Linked DNA regions of Homo sapiens: region 1 is linked to region 2. A link means that fine-mapping ties the variant in region 2 to the expression of a gene that starts in the linked region. Tissue or cell type: whole blood. Region 2 holds a variant in brackets; the other region holds the start of a gene. All regions are shown on one strand. Distances are from middle to middle.

Evidence for each region. PIP is the estimated chance that this variant, and not a neighbour inherited with it, causes the effect.
Region 1: SBF1 starts here. The variant in region 2 is fine-mapped to the expression of SBF1 in whole blood (TOPMed, PIP above 0.99).

Annotation. Positions count from the first base shown.
Region 1 is chr22:50,473,007-50,479,138 of GRCh38, forward strand. It overlaps SBF1 (SET binding factor 1), which reads right to left and starts at 2,029. Exons shown (of 41, transcript NM_002972.4): 1 at 1,780-2,029. The coding sequence starts at 1,834. RefSeq lists enhancers at 1-461, 462-1,371, 2,282-3,191 and silencers at 1,391-1,520, 1,941-2,400, 1,981-2,185.
Region 2 is chr22:50,446,750-50,453,871 of GRCh38, forward strand. SBF1 (SET binding factor 1) reads right to left here. Exons shown (of 41, transcript NM_002972.4): 37 at 1,794-1,901; 38 at 1,484-1,695; 39 at 773-860; 40 at 573-704; 41 at 1-491. The coding sequence ends at 393. Among named protein-coding and RNA genes, the nearest start is that of SBF1, 25 kb to the right of the region's middle. The variant C/T (reference allele first, on the strand shown) is at 4,529.

The DNA of each region.
Region 1 (6,132 bases), 26 kb after region 2:
GTCCTGCGCAAAGGACACACACAAACAGGTGCCTGCACTACGTGTGGCTCCAGCAGTGAGCACACACGTCACAGCCAGCTTGTTGTGGAGCCCACTCTGCCTCTTCTCTCTGCCTACCTTCAACTCCTCACCCCACGGCCACCACGCCTCCCACCTGGCCTTTGCCTGCAGTCTCTACCAACCCAAACCCTCTCCACACTGCCCTCAGGATCATCAGGGTCATTATCAGCTGTTCCTGTAGCCCCCGCCCCAGCCCTCAGCCCAAGGCCCCTCACGCCAAGACAGCCCTCAGCCAGCCTTGCTTCCCTGGATCCTCAGGCACCCTCTGCCCCAGGTGGTAAGGCCTCCTCCATGCCCCTCATAGGTGCCTCGGTGCAGACAGCTCCCTCTGTGGGTCAAGACAACATTGACAGCCAACCTGCACAGTGGGGATGAGGACTATGTGGTCCTAGCAAGCGAGAACTCCCTCTCTAAAGAAAAAGACAGATGCTCATGACTGACGGTGCCATAAGACACACACTTGGATAGACATGAGCAGAGAGGAGTGTGTGCTGAGTAAGAGGGCACTGAGGAGGGGCTGGAGACGAAGAAGATGCTAAAGAGGCTTCAGGAAGTGTAGGGGGGTGTCCAGCAGAAGAAACACAAAAAAGAGAGAACTCCAGGTCCTTGGTGGGGACAGTGACAACTGGACTGACAAAAAACAGGGTAACTGGGAAGGCAAGCTCAATCCCACCTCCAGGCTCAAGATCCAGCCCCTGCCTGACCACACAGCCATCCCCACACACTGCCAGTCTGCAGCTGGGATCTGACAGCCTGAGTGCCAGTCCCAGCCTCTCTGAGCCGGCTCAGGCCAGGCAGTCAGCTTATCCGCGCCTAACTTCTCTACAGATGGGGGCAACACCAGGGCAACCCCGGTGGGCTGCTGGGAGGAAGAGGTGAGATCATGTACACAAAGGGCTGTGCGGGGCCTGGCACACCAAGCACGCTCGCCAACGCTGCTGTCTCCAGGCTGTTGCTGATGTCATCGTCAGGCTCCGTTTTCTCCTACCTCCTGGGCTGAAGAGCTCTCAGACACGGGCGCTGACCCCACACACAGACCTCCTGGGCATGGGCACCGACCGCCACGCTGATACCCCACCCAGGGCTTGGCGTGCAGGGCCTGGACCGTCAGGCGAGTCGCCAGGAATGCTCTTCTCTCTACTCTCGACGCTTCCTCCTCAAATCCTCCCAGTTTCAAATCAAACACCGCTTCTCCATGCACCAAACCCGAACTCCACCCCCTCTTTGCACCCCGCCAAGACCGCCGGGGGCTTCAGACGGAGCACCAAGGTCAGAGGCGGGCTGGCGAGCCGCGGGTCCGCGCCCCTGGAGCCACTAGAGCCACAGCCGCCCGCAGCTGGCCAAGGAGAGAGCCCGTCCCACCCCAAGGAGGCCGGGCAGGCCGGGCCCAGCCTTCTCTCCCTGCCGCCACCAGGCCCGCGCGGCCACGCCGCCCCCAGCGGACGCCCATTCTCCCCACGGGCTGTCCGGTCGGCCCTGGCCTTCAGTCCCCGCCCGGCCCCCGGCCCCGGCCCTCAGTCCTCGGCTCCCCCGACCCCGGCCCTCAGCGCCCAGCCCCCGGTCCTCGGCCCTCAGCGCCCGGCCCTCAGTCCTCGGCCTCCCGACCCAGCCCCCAGCCCTCGGCCCCCAGCCCCCGGCCCTCGACCCTCAGACCCAGCCCCTGGCCCTCAGCACTCGACCCTCGGCCCCCGGCCCTCAGCGCTTGGCCTCGGCACTCACCGCGCGGGTGCGGCCCGAACGCCACCAGCACGAAGTAGTCCGCGAGCCGCGCCATGGCGAGGGACGCGGGGCGGCCCGAGGGGCGCGGGCGGGCTCCGCGGCTCGGGGACTCGAGGACGGCGCGCTCATGGCCCGGCCCCGGCCCTGGACCGCGCACCCCGGACACCCCTGGTTCGCTCCGCGGCGGCGGCGGCGGCGGCGGCGGCGGCCCAGGTTCCCGCCGCCATCTTCCCAGCCAGCCGGCCCGCCCGGGCGCGCCGTGCGCCTGCGCGCTGTCGTCAAGCCCTGAGCGGGCGGGGCCTGCAACCGCGCATCTCCATTGGTCCAGAGGGTGGGAGGGCGGCTCCCGAGAGCAGCGCCCCGCCCATCGCTGACCACTCTGGGGCCCGAGCACCGCCCCTCGGGCCGGGCACCTGGACTACGGCTCCGGCGGGTCTGACGCCCTGACCCGGGTCGGCTGTGGTGTCGGCGGGAGGCATGGGCCAGGACCACAGCTGCCCTCGCCGTTGGGACTCCCCGCACAGGAGCCCGAACCCCACCCCTGGGCCGTCCCAATCTGGGGATCGGGTCCCCAGACTCCTCGTCCCCCGCCCCTCTCTGTCCAGCGGGAGAAAGGCGGGAGAAGCCTAGGCGCTGCCTACCGGGCCCCCCAAACTAGAAGTCAGAGGAGGCGCAGGGCCATCACCTCAGGGGCTGCCAGCCTGGCGATGGGGAACAGAGAGAGAATTCAGGCCCTGCCCTTGGGGTCCCAGGCTGAAGAGCCCCCATCTAGGCCAAGTGAGACATTTAACACAGCTTAAAAACGGCACGCTCATGTCCCCCTGTAAAGAGCAAATGTTCTAAGCGTGTGAGGCACATGAGGCCACGGAGCAGGGGGCTCTGGGAAAGCTGCATCCCCCAGGATCCCTGACAGTGCCCACCCCTCTCAAGGGCAGGGCTGGCCAGGGCCACCCCTGAAGTGGCTCAGGGATGAGCATGAGCCCAGAGCAGAACATGCTGGGAGAGAAGGTGCAGGAGCCAGCCTGGTGCAGCAGGGAAACCCCTCTGAGCACAGCAGGCCAAGGTCTGTTTTTTGTTATGTTTTGTTTTGTTTTTGAGGCAGAGTCTCAATCCGTCACCCAGGCTGAAGTGCAGTGACACCATCTTGGCTCACTGGAACGTCCGTCTCCTGGGTTCAAGCAATTCTCCCGCCTCAGCTTCCCGCGTAGCTGGGATTACAGGTGTGCACCACCATGCCCGGCTAATTTTTGTATTTTAGTAGAGAGGGGGTTTCACCATGTTGGCCAGGCTGGTCTTGAACTCCTGACCTCAGGCCATCCACCCACCATGGCGTCCCAAAGTGCTGGGATTACAGGCATGAGCCACCGCCCCCAGCCCGAAGGTCTGTTTTTTGTTTTTTGTTTGTTTTTGTTTGTTTGTTTTGAGACAGAGTCTCGCTCTGTCGCCCAGGCTGGAGTACAGTGGCGTGATCTTGGCTCACTGCAAACTCCGCCTCCCAGGTTCACATCATTCTCCTGCCTCAGCCTCCCGAGTAGCTGGGACTACAAGCACCTGCCACCACGCCCAGCTAATTTTTTGTATTTTTAGTAGCGACAGGGTTTCACTGTGTTAGCCAGGATGGTCTCGATCTCCTGACCTCGTGATCCGCCCATCTCGGCCTCCCAAAGTGCTGGCATTACAGGTGTGAGCCACCGCGCCTGGCCCTGAAGGTCTGTTTTTAAATGAGTTTGGCTGCTGCAAGAACTGGCCAAATGACTGGCATCCAGTCTCCATCCATGGGCAGGAGCCAGCCCAAGAGAATGAATGGAATCAAACTGAGAGGCCCCACCAGGGTCCCCTCCCTGCCCTCAGGCACAGGCCACGCTACGCCTCTCCTCTCCCACTGTTGGTTTTCACAGGTTGAGAAATCATCTTTTTAAAATTTAATTTTTTTGTAGAGACAGGGTCTTGATAAGTTACCTAGGCTTGTCTTGAACTCCTGTCCTCAAATGATCCTCCTGCATCTGCCTCAAAAAGTGTTGGGATTACAGGTGTGAGAAACTGTGCCCTGCCAGAAATCCTCCTTTTTGCCCCAGCTGGCTCAAGTTGGTTTCTGTCACTTGTACCCAAAAAGGTCCTCAGCACCACACTACCACACCACTGAGCTTGTGTGCAGGCTGGCAGGGGCCCGGGGCAAGTCTGGGCTAGTGCTTGAGCCCAGGGCTGGCTCTCTTCGGAGAGACTCTAGGGACCCTGCACCGCACTCTCCACTCTCTCTGAGACTCTGGGGACCCTGCGTCGCACTCTCTCCACTGTCATGCTTCCACCAGGCCCTTGGGAACAACCATCCACAGTGGCTCAGTGTCTCAGATGGATGGATGCCCCTCCCTACCGCCCAGCCTGCTGATTTCTGGTCAGCTGTCTTGCAGTCTGCACTCTCCTCGAACCTCTCACCCCACTTCCAGTGTCTCTGAGATAATTGGCTGCTCCTCAGAGAGCAAATAGAAGCTATCAGATGGGAGCACCAAGCCCCCATCTTACACCTCTCACACCACCCCTCCCTCCATTACCACAGGGCTCTGCCCCCCTGCCCACTCCTCATCTCAGGCCATCATTCACTGTCAGTGCCCGCCGCCAAACTCCATCCTTCCCTGTCTATGGATTCCTTGCTATCAGAGTCAAACTTACCTCTGCCATCATAAAACACTCAAACAAAACCCCCCAAAGGCCGGGCGTGGTGGCTCATGCCTGTAAATCCCAGCACTCTGGGAGGCCCAGGCGGGTGGATCACTTGGCGTCAGGAGTTTGAGACCAACCTGCACAACATGGTGAAACCCCGTCTCTACTAAATATACAAAAAATTAGCCAGGCATGGTGACGCGTGCCTGTAATCCCAGCTACTCGGGAAGCTGAGGCAGGAGAGTTGCTTGAACCCGGGAGGCGGAGGTTGCAGTGAGCCGAGATCACGCCACTGCACTCCAGCCTGGGAGATAGAGCGCAACCCCATCTCAAAAAAAAAAAGGAAAAAACCCCAAGATGCTGTTTGTCCAGCCAGTTGCCACCCTAGCTTCTTTTGCTTCTCACAAGCATTCCCCAAGGCCACCGCCCCCTCCTATGGCCCAGCCCTCGCACATTTGGAAACTTGTGTCTCCCCTTCACCTGTGTCCATCATAAGCGGTGCTGGGGCAGCCCCGTCGCTCCCCAGAAGCAGCTTCTCCAACTAAGAATGGACTCACATGCAACAAGCACCAGGGACCCTGGGAATCACAGACGGGGCCTCCTCTCTGGTGGGCTGGGCAGGTGCAGAAGCAGCAGCCAGGCTGATGCCTGAGGGCAGAGGATACACCCTCCCCACAAGCTGGCGGGAGGCAGGACTGTGGCTCACAGGGGCAGCAACTGTCCTGTCATCTCAGGGCCTGAAACGCAGCCCCTCGCTGGGGCTGTCCTCCACCTGTCCCAGATTAAAAACCTTGTGAGGGCTGGGCACGGTGGCTCACGCCTGTAATCCCAGCACTCTGGGAAGCCAAGGCGGGCGGATCATGAGGTCAGGAGATCGAGACCATCCTGGCTAACACGGTGAAACTCTACTAAAAATACAGAAAAATTAGCCGGGCATGGTGGAGGGCGCTTGTAGTCCCAGCTACTTGGGAGGCTGAGGCAGGAGAATGGCGTGAACCCAGGAGGCGGAGCTTGCAGTGAGTCAAGATCACACCACTGCACTCCAGCCTGGGTGACAGAGCGAGACTCCGTCTCAAAAAAAAAAAAAAAAAAAAAAAAAAAGCCTCTTGAGGACAGGGAATTTTTGCTGGTTTTTCTTTATTGGTGGGGCGAACGATTTGATTGCACTTGTGTTTTGAAAGGACAGAGCTGGTGGCAGTGTGGAAGGCTGAGGGCCGAGTGGGGAGGCAGCAGCAGAAGCCGCAGCAGCAGATTTGGGAACCTGGGGGATCCCCTGCTCAGGCCCTTCCCTACCTGCCCCTCCAGAGCTGGCGCTGGGCTCCATCCTTGGCCAGCCTCTCCGCATTCTCTGTGGATGAGGCTCACCATATCCTCCATGGCTGCGCCATCCCTGAAACCCCAAAACTGTTCTCGACCTGCCTTATCTTTAGTCCCATGCCTGCCAGGCTGGGGAGCGACCAGACCCCTCTCCCTGGACAACCCCCAGGCAGCTCGGCCTCAGCATGTCCAGGCCCCGACCTCTTCCCACCCCCTCAGCAGCTGCCACATCAGCAAACAGAAGGGCTTCGCCGGGAACTGAGCCCCTCATTTCCCGTCCTGCCCCGCTAAATTTCTCCCACCCATCCACTCTGTCCCCTCAAGCCCTTTCTGCCTGCCTCCCCAGCACCTGCCTTCTTGGCTGCCCCTCCACCTTTC
Region 2 (7,122 bases):
CTCTGGGTAGGCCGAGAGCAGGCAGCCGGGGAGTGGGGAAGGCAGGCACAGGAGCGTGGCGTTAGTTCTCTCTTTATATAGACTCTGGTTCTAGAAACTCGCCTGCAGCCGCTGGCTGGACCAGCACACGCTGACGGGGCCGGACTATTTACAGGCCCATTGCGGGCTGTACCTTGGCCACCTCCCGGCACGGTGCTCAGCTGTGACGCCAAAATAAGTTAGGGCCGGCCGGGCGGGGCGGGGCGGGGACGGGGGCTGTACACACAAGTGCTGGGGGCTCGGGGCCTCAATACTGTCGAGGGCCGGGGCTGTAAACATGGCCGGGGCGGCCCTGCCCACCCCTAGTGGTCGGTAACGACCGGAAGCAGAGCAGCCGGGCAGGGCTGGGAGGCTCAGGCGTCCGACAGGCAGCTCTGGATCCGGTCCACCCACTGCTGGGCCGAGGGCACGTCCTGGGCACAGAAGTTGTAAACGCGACGCGTTGTCTTCACCTGGGGAAGGGCGGGTTACTGACTCCGCAGCCCCCACACCGCAGAGCCCCTCCCCTCTCCCAAGCCCCGGCCAAGGCTCACGTCAAAGAAGGCCTTCTCGTCCACAGTCTTAGGGGCACCCATAGTGGGCGTGCCAGGTGCCACAGCCTCCACCTCCGCCAAGTCGATGACACCCTTGCACTCTGTGTCCACACGGTGGTCGTAGTAGCGCAGCTGGAGGAGGCCACAGAGTCAGCGGAGCCCCCTCCCCCGTGAGTCCCCCCCACCACCTGATCACTCACCTGGTGCTTGGTCTTGTCCAGCACGAACCAGCGGGCCTTCCAAGGCTTCATGAAGGCCCCCTTCTTGTACAGAGTGCCCTCGTAGGACCTGCATTTCCAGCAGAACCAGGGCCAGGCTGACCGTCATGGCCCAGCCAAGCCCAGGCCCCAGCAGTCGTCCCCCCCTTGCTGTCCCAGCCCAGGAGGTAAGACCAGGCACCCTGTCCCCAGAACTGACCTAAGCCCAGAGCACTGGCCAGGGGGCCACAAAGAAGCCTTTGATGGGGGGCTGCAGGCCCAAGAAGACGACGCCCAGAAAGGAGACAGTGAAGGGCGCCTCACACCCTCCAGACTCCAGGGAGCATCCCCACACCAGAGCCTCAGGGTCTTGGGAAAGCAGCCCCCTACACAGGGCAGGCGCCCTTACGAGGAGAGGGATGGCCAGGCAGGTAGATCTGTAGAAGCAGCCACGGCAGCAGCTGCCTGGGATGGATCCTGCCAGACTCCAGACTCACGGGGGCCCCACCACTGCCCTCTCTCTACTCCTCCCTCAGCCACTGCAGGCTGTGGTCAGCTGTGGTCACCAGTTCGACACCCCAAACCCCTCCCAGTGGTGGTGTATACTTAAGCAAGCTCCTCAAAAGCACCCGCAATCTCCCACCAGAGGACTGCCTGGGACCCCAGAACACCAGCTCAGAGGTGTCCATGTGGCAGTGGGAGGTGCCCTCATACCTGTTCTCACTCTCTGCTGTCTGGAACTGGCTGTACAGGGTGCTGGTGCTGCGGCGGGCAGCCTGACGGGAGCCGGATGTGGTTGAGCCACTACTCTGGTCGCTGTCCAGGCTGAGGCTCAGGGTGGAGCCCACGGGCCCCTCCTGCAGGTACACACCCAGCGAGCGACGGTGGTGGGGTGCGGTGGACACAAGGAGGGAGCTAGGGGTGCCCTGGGAACAGGAGGTTGGGACTTGGGTCAGGGCTGGACAGACTCCACTTTCTCCCAGCAACACGCCCACCGTGGACGCTCACACTGGCCCTCACTCACACGGCCGTCTGGCCGGCCCTCGAGGCGCTGTGCAGCCTTCACCCGGTCCCAGGTGTCCTTCCAGCGCTCAGCGGGTTGGCCCAACTCTGTCTCCAGCCTCTGCAGCTCCTGGGGGAAGAATTAATGGCAAGTTTATTCAAAAGGAAATATCCAGACTAGAGCACGAAAAGACAAAAGGAAAACACAGGAAAGAGACACAACGGAAAGGCCTAACGCGTGTGTGACTGGCCACAGGGGGAGGTGGCAAGAGGGAGGGAAGGAATATGCAAAATGAATATTCGGAGACAACAGTTGAAAAATTTCCCAAACTAACCAGAGGCATCAAACAACATAATCAAGAAGCACTACAGACCCCAACAGGGTAAGTTAAAAACACACACCCCGGCCAGGCGTGGTGGCTCACGCCTGTAATCCCAGCACTTTGGGAGGCCGATCACCTGAGGTCAGGAGTTTGAGACCAGCCTGACAAACATGGAGAAACCGCATCTCTACTAAAAATACAAAAAGTTAGCCCAGCATGGTGGCGCACGCCTGTAGGAGAATCGCTTGAACCTGGGAGGCGGAGGTTGCGGTGAGCCGAGAACGCGCCACTGCACACCAGCATGGGCAACAAGAGCAAAACTGCTTCTCAAAAAAAAAAAAGACCACACAATACTGATCTTCAACACTGCAGGGTCCACAATGTCCAGCTTACAATAAAAGAACAGCAGAAAAATGGAGAAAAACATTAAAATAGACCCTGAAATGAAACAGGAGTTAGAACATACAGTAAATTCAAGAGAGTGATTTTAGGGCCAGGCGCGGTGGCTCACGCCTGTAATCCCAGCACTTTGGGTGGCCGAGGCGGGTGGATCACGAGGTCAGGAGTTCAAGACCAGCCTGGCCAAGATGGTGAAACCCCAACTCTACTAAAAATACAAAAATTAGCCGGACGCAGTGGCAGGCACCAGTAATCCCAACTACTCAGGAAGCTGAGGCAGGAGAATCACTTAAACTCAGGGGGCGGAAGTTGCAGTGAGCCGAGATCACACCACTGCCCTCCAGCCTGGGCGGCAAAGTGAGATTCTGTCTCAAAACACACAAACACACACACACACACACACACACACACACACCCCAAAATGGGACAGAAAAACTGCTGAAAAACAAAGAGAAAAGTCCCAAAACCTGCCAGAAGAAAAAAAGACATGCTCTCTTTGAAAGAGCAACAATAAAACTGACGGCTGACTTCAAAAGAGAAACACGAGGCCAACTGTCAACTTCCAGCCATGACAGATAATTAGTCTGAACAGCCCTCCCTCCATATGCAAATGATGAAACTGGACAAGAAGGGGAAGCCGTTGTTTCCAGATGTCAGACAAGCAGTGCAGCTTGAGAGACAGGAGCCTAAGACATGGGACCACATAAGATGGGCCCCACAGTCACCTGTTTTCTGCCCAGCCACAGTGCAGGGAGGCAGGGCCAGAGCAACACACGGGAGCTTGCTGAGCCGAGGAGGCAGAGACGGGACGTCCAGGGGCGCTAGTGCAGCTGGGTCTGCAGGGCAGCCCACAGAGGGGAGGGAGCACCACAGCAAAGGGGCTCTAGAAATCTAGACAGAGCCCTCCTTGAGTCGTTGGCCAAATTAGGCTGCCATGTGCAAAGCAAGATGTCACAAGGCCTGGCAGAGAACAGCTACTAAGAAGCTATGACCTGACGCCGGCAGCAGTGGCTCACACCTGTAATCCCAGCACTTTGGGAGGCCAATGCGGGTGGATAACCTGAGGTCAGGAGTTCAAGACCAGCCTGGTAAACATGGCAAAACCCTGTCTCTACTAAAAATACAAAAATTAGCTGGGCATGGTGGCGGGCACCTGTAATCCCAGCTACTCGGGAGGCTGAGGCAGGAGAATTGCTTGAACATGGGAAGTGGAGGCTGCAGTGAGCCGAGAGTGCGCCACTGCACTCCAGCCTGGGAGACAAAGTGAGACTCTGCCTCAAAAAAAAAAAAACAAAACTATGAGCTGAACCCAAATTCTAGAGGAATGCTAAAAGATACTGGACTTCCAAAAAGCCAGTGTGGCAAGACCTTACCGAAGACACAAAGACACAAAACTCCAACTGAAGCCCTGGAGAGGCCACACGCCTTGGGCTGCTCTATCCCTGGAGCTTCTCTAGAGGTGCTGGAGAGCTGCCCAAACAAAGCTTAGAAACAAGCTTCAAACAGACCAAGCTGACGCACAAGCTCATTACCTACCTGCGAGAATAAAACCCAAGACTCTAAGCTTAAAGAAAGACAACACAGGCAGGGCACAGTGGCTCCCGCCTGTAAGCCCAGCACTTCGGGAGGCCGAGGAGGGAGAATCGCTTGACCCAAGGAGTGTGAGAACAGCTTGGGCAACATGGCAAGACCCCATCTTTATATATATTTTTAAGTTATGTTTCAAGATTTAAAAGAAAAGATGGACATAATGGTTTATCAGATGGGGAATCTCTACAATAAAAAGCGTTAAATTCATTAGATGGGGCCGGGTGTGGTGGCTCATGCCTGTAATCCCAGCACTTTAGGAGGCCAAGGTGAGAGGACTGCTTGAGCCCAGGAGTTTGAGACCTGCCTGGGTGACATAGGGAGACCCCATCTCTACAAAAAAAAAAAAAAAAAAAAAAAAAAAGTAGCCGGCACGTGGCCCACGCCAGTAGTCTTGGCAACTCAAGAGGCTGAATGAAGCAGGATGATTGTTTGAGCCTGGGAGGTT[C/T]GGGCTGCAGTGAGCCATGACTGTGCCACTGCACTCCAGCCTGGGCAACAGAGCAAGACCCTGTCTCAAGAAATTAAAAAAAAATTCATTTGATGGGCTTCAGTATATTAAAAACAAGAAAGAAAAGAGTAGTGAACTTGAAGACAAGCCAACAGAAATCATCCAAAATGAATTGCAAAGATAAAGACTGAGAAAAAACAAACAGAGCTTCAGCAACGTATGGGACAATAAAGTTCCAGAAGGAAAGGGAGAGATCATGCAGAAAAAGTAATTTATAGAAGCAATGGCTTGAAATGTATTAAATTTGACAAAAATGATCATCCCACAGACCCAGAAGTTTAAAGAGCCCCAAGCAGGACGAAAGCAAAAACCACAATGGTCAAATTGCTGAAGCCAAAATTAAATGCAAAATCTTAAGGCAGAGAATCAAAGGGTGCCATTATACACAGTTTATAAGGATAAGAATCAACACCAACTTCTAAGCAGAAACAATACAGGCCAGAAAACAAAGTAATATCTTTTTTTTTTTTTTTTTTGAGGCAGAGTCTCACTCATGTCGCCCAGGCTGCAGTGCAGTGGCGCGATCTCAGCTCAGTGCAGCCTCCACCTCCCGGGTTGAAGCGATTCTCCTGCCTCAGCCTCCTGAGTAGCTGGGATTACAGGCACCCGCCACCATGCTCAGCTCATTTTTATATTTTAGTAGAGACGGGGTTTCACCATATTTGCCAGGCTGGTCTCGAACTCCTGACCTCAGGTTATCCACCTGCCTCAGCCTCCCAAAGTGCTGGGATGACAGGCGTGAGCCGCTGCGCCCAGCCTAGTAATGAGATCTTTTAAAGTGACATCAGTTTAACTGCTGAATTAAAAAAAAAAAAAAAAAAAAGAAGCAGCTGTCAACCTAGAAATGCATATCCAGAGAAAATGCCCTTTGCAAAATAAAGGCACCAAGATGTTTTCAGATAAACAAAAGCTGAGGGGATTTGTGACTGGCAGCTCTGCATTACAAGAAATATTAAAAATTCTTCAGGCTGAAGAGAAATAATAACCAGACCAGATTATACTGAAAGAATGAAGAATGTTATAAATGGCAAAAATAGAAGACTTTTTCCTTCTTTCTTAATTTCCTTAAAACAAAGTTGACTATTTAAAACAAAAACAGGGCCGGGCACGGTGGCTCACGCCTGTAATCCCAGCACTTTGCAAGGCCAAGGCGGGCGGATCACCTGAGGTCAGGAGTTTGAGACTAGCCTGGCCAACACAGTGAAACCCCGTCTCTACTAAAAATACAAAAAAAATTTAGCCGGGCATGATGGTGGGTGCCTCTAATCCCAGCTACTTGGGAGGCTGAGACAGGAGAATCACCTGAACTCAGAGGCAGAGGTTGCAGTGAACCGAGATCGCACCACCGCTCTCCAGCCTGGGTGACTGAGGGAGACTCCATCTCTCAAAAAAAAAAAAAAAAAAAAAAAAAAAACCATACTGGGTGTTTATGTCATACGTAAAAATAAAATGTGTGACAGTAACAGGACAGGAAAGGCATGAATGGACACACACTGCCGTAAGGCTCTTCTGGTGTCAACAGGGTGATGTAATTTCAAGTCAGATGATTATAGCCCCCAGCAACCCCTGAAACACAACACAGAGATGTACAGCTCAACTCACAGTAGACAGAATACTAAAAACACTTGTTTTTTAAAAAAAGAAAAGAAAGAAAGGAAAAAAAATCAAAGGGACAAAGAGAAAACAAAGAGCAAGATGACAGACTTAAACCCAGCCACATCAATAGTAACAGTAAATTAAAATGGGCTAAAAATTCCAATTAAAAAAACCCATTAGACTGGATAACAAGAAGACCCAACTACATCTACATTCTGTGTACAAGAAACTCACCTTAAACATAAACACACAGACCAGTAAAAAATACAAGAAAACAACAGAGCAAGCTGACACTGGTCATGACAAAGCTGAGTGACTCTGTTAGCACCAATGAGACCGCGTCAACTTTAAGACAATGAGCATCGCTAGAGAGAAAAAGGGACTGCTGTCTGTGCTTTGTGGGTCACCTCCATCACAAACCATGACTCCCGTACTCCCCCAAACCCTGTGCCCCATGCTAAGTCACTGAAATAAATGACTCATTTAAGCCTCACAACTTCCCTGTAAGGCAGGAATCAGCATTTCCACTTTCTGCACAAGGAACCAGAAGCTCTAAGATGCTTAGATAACTAGGCCAGGCACGGTGGCTCACGCCTGTAATCCCAGCACTTTGGGAGGCCGAGGCAGGTGGATCACGAGGTCAGGAGATCGAGACCATCCTGGCTAACACGGTAAAACCCCGTCTCCACTAAAAATACAAAAAATTAGCTGGGCGTGGTGGTGGGCACCTGTAGTCCCAGCTACTCGAGAGGCTGAGGCAGGAGAATGGTGTGAACCCGGGAGACGGAGCTTGCAGTGAGCGGAGATCGCGCCACTACACTCCAGCCTGGGCGACAGAGCGAGACTCCATCTCAAAATAAAAAAAAAAAGATAACCTCTAAGGCCACACAGCCAACAGTGGGGAGCTGAGTGCAGGTCCCCCCGTGGCCTAGGTCCAA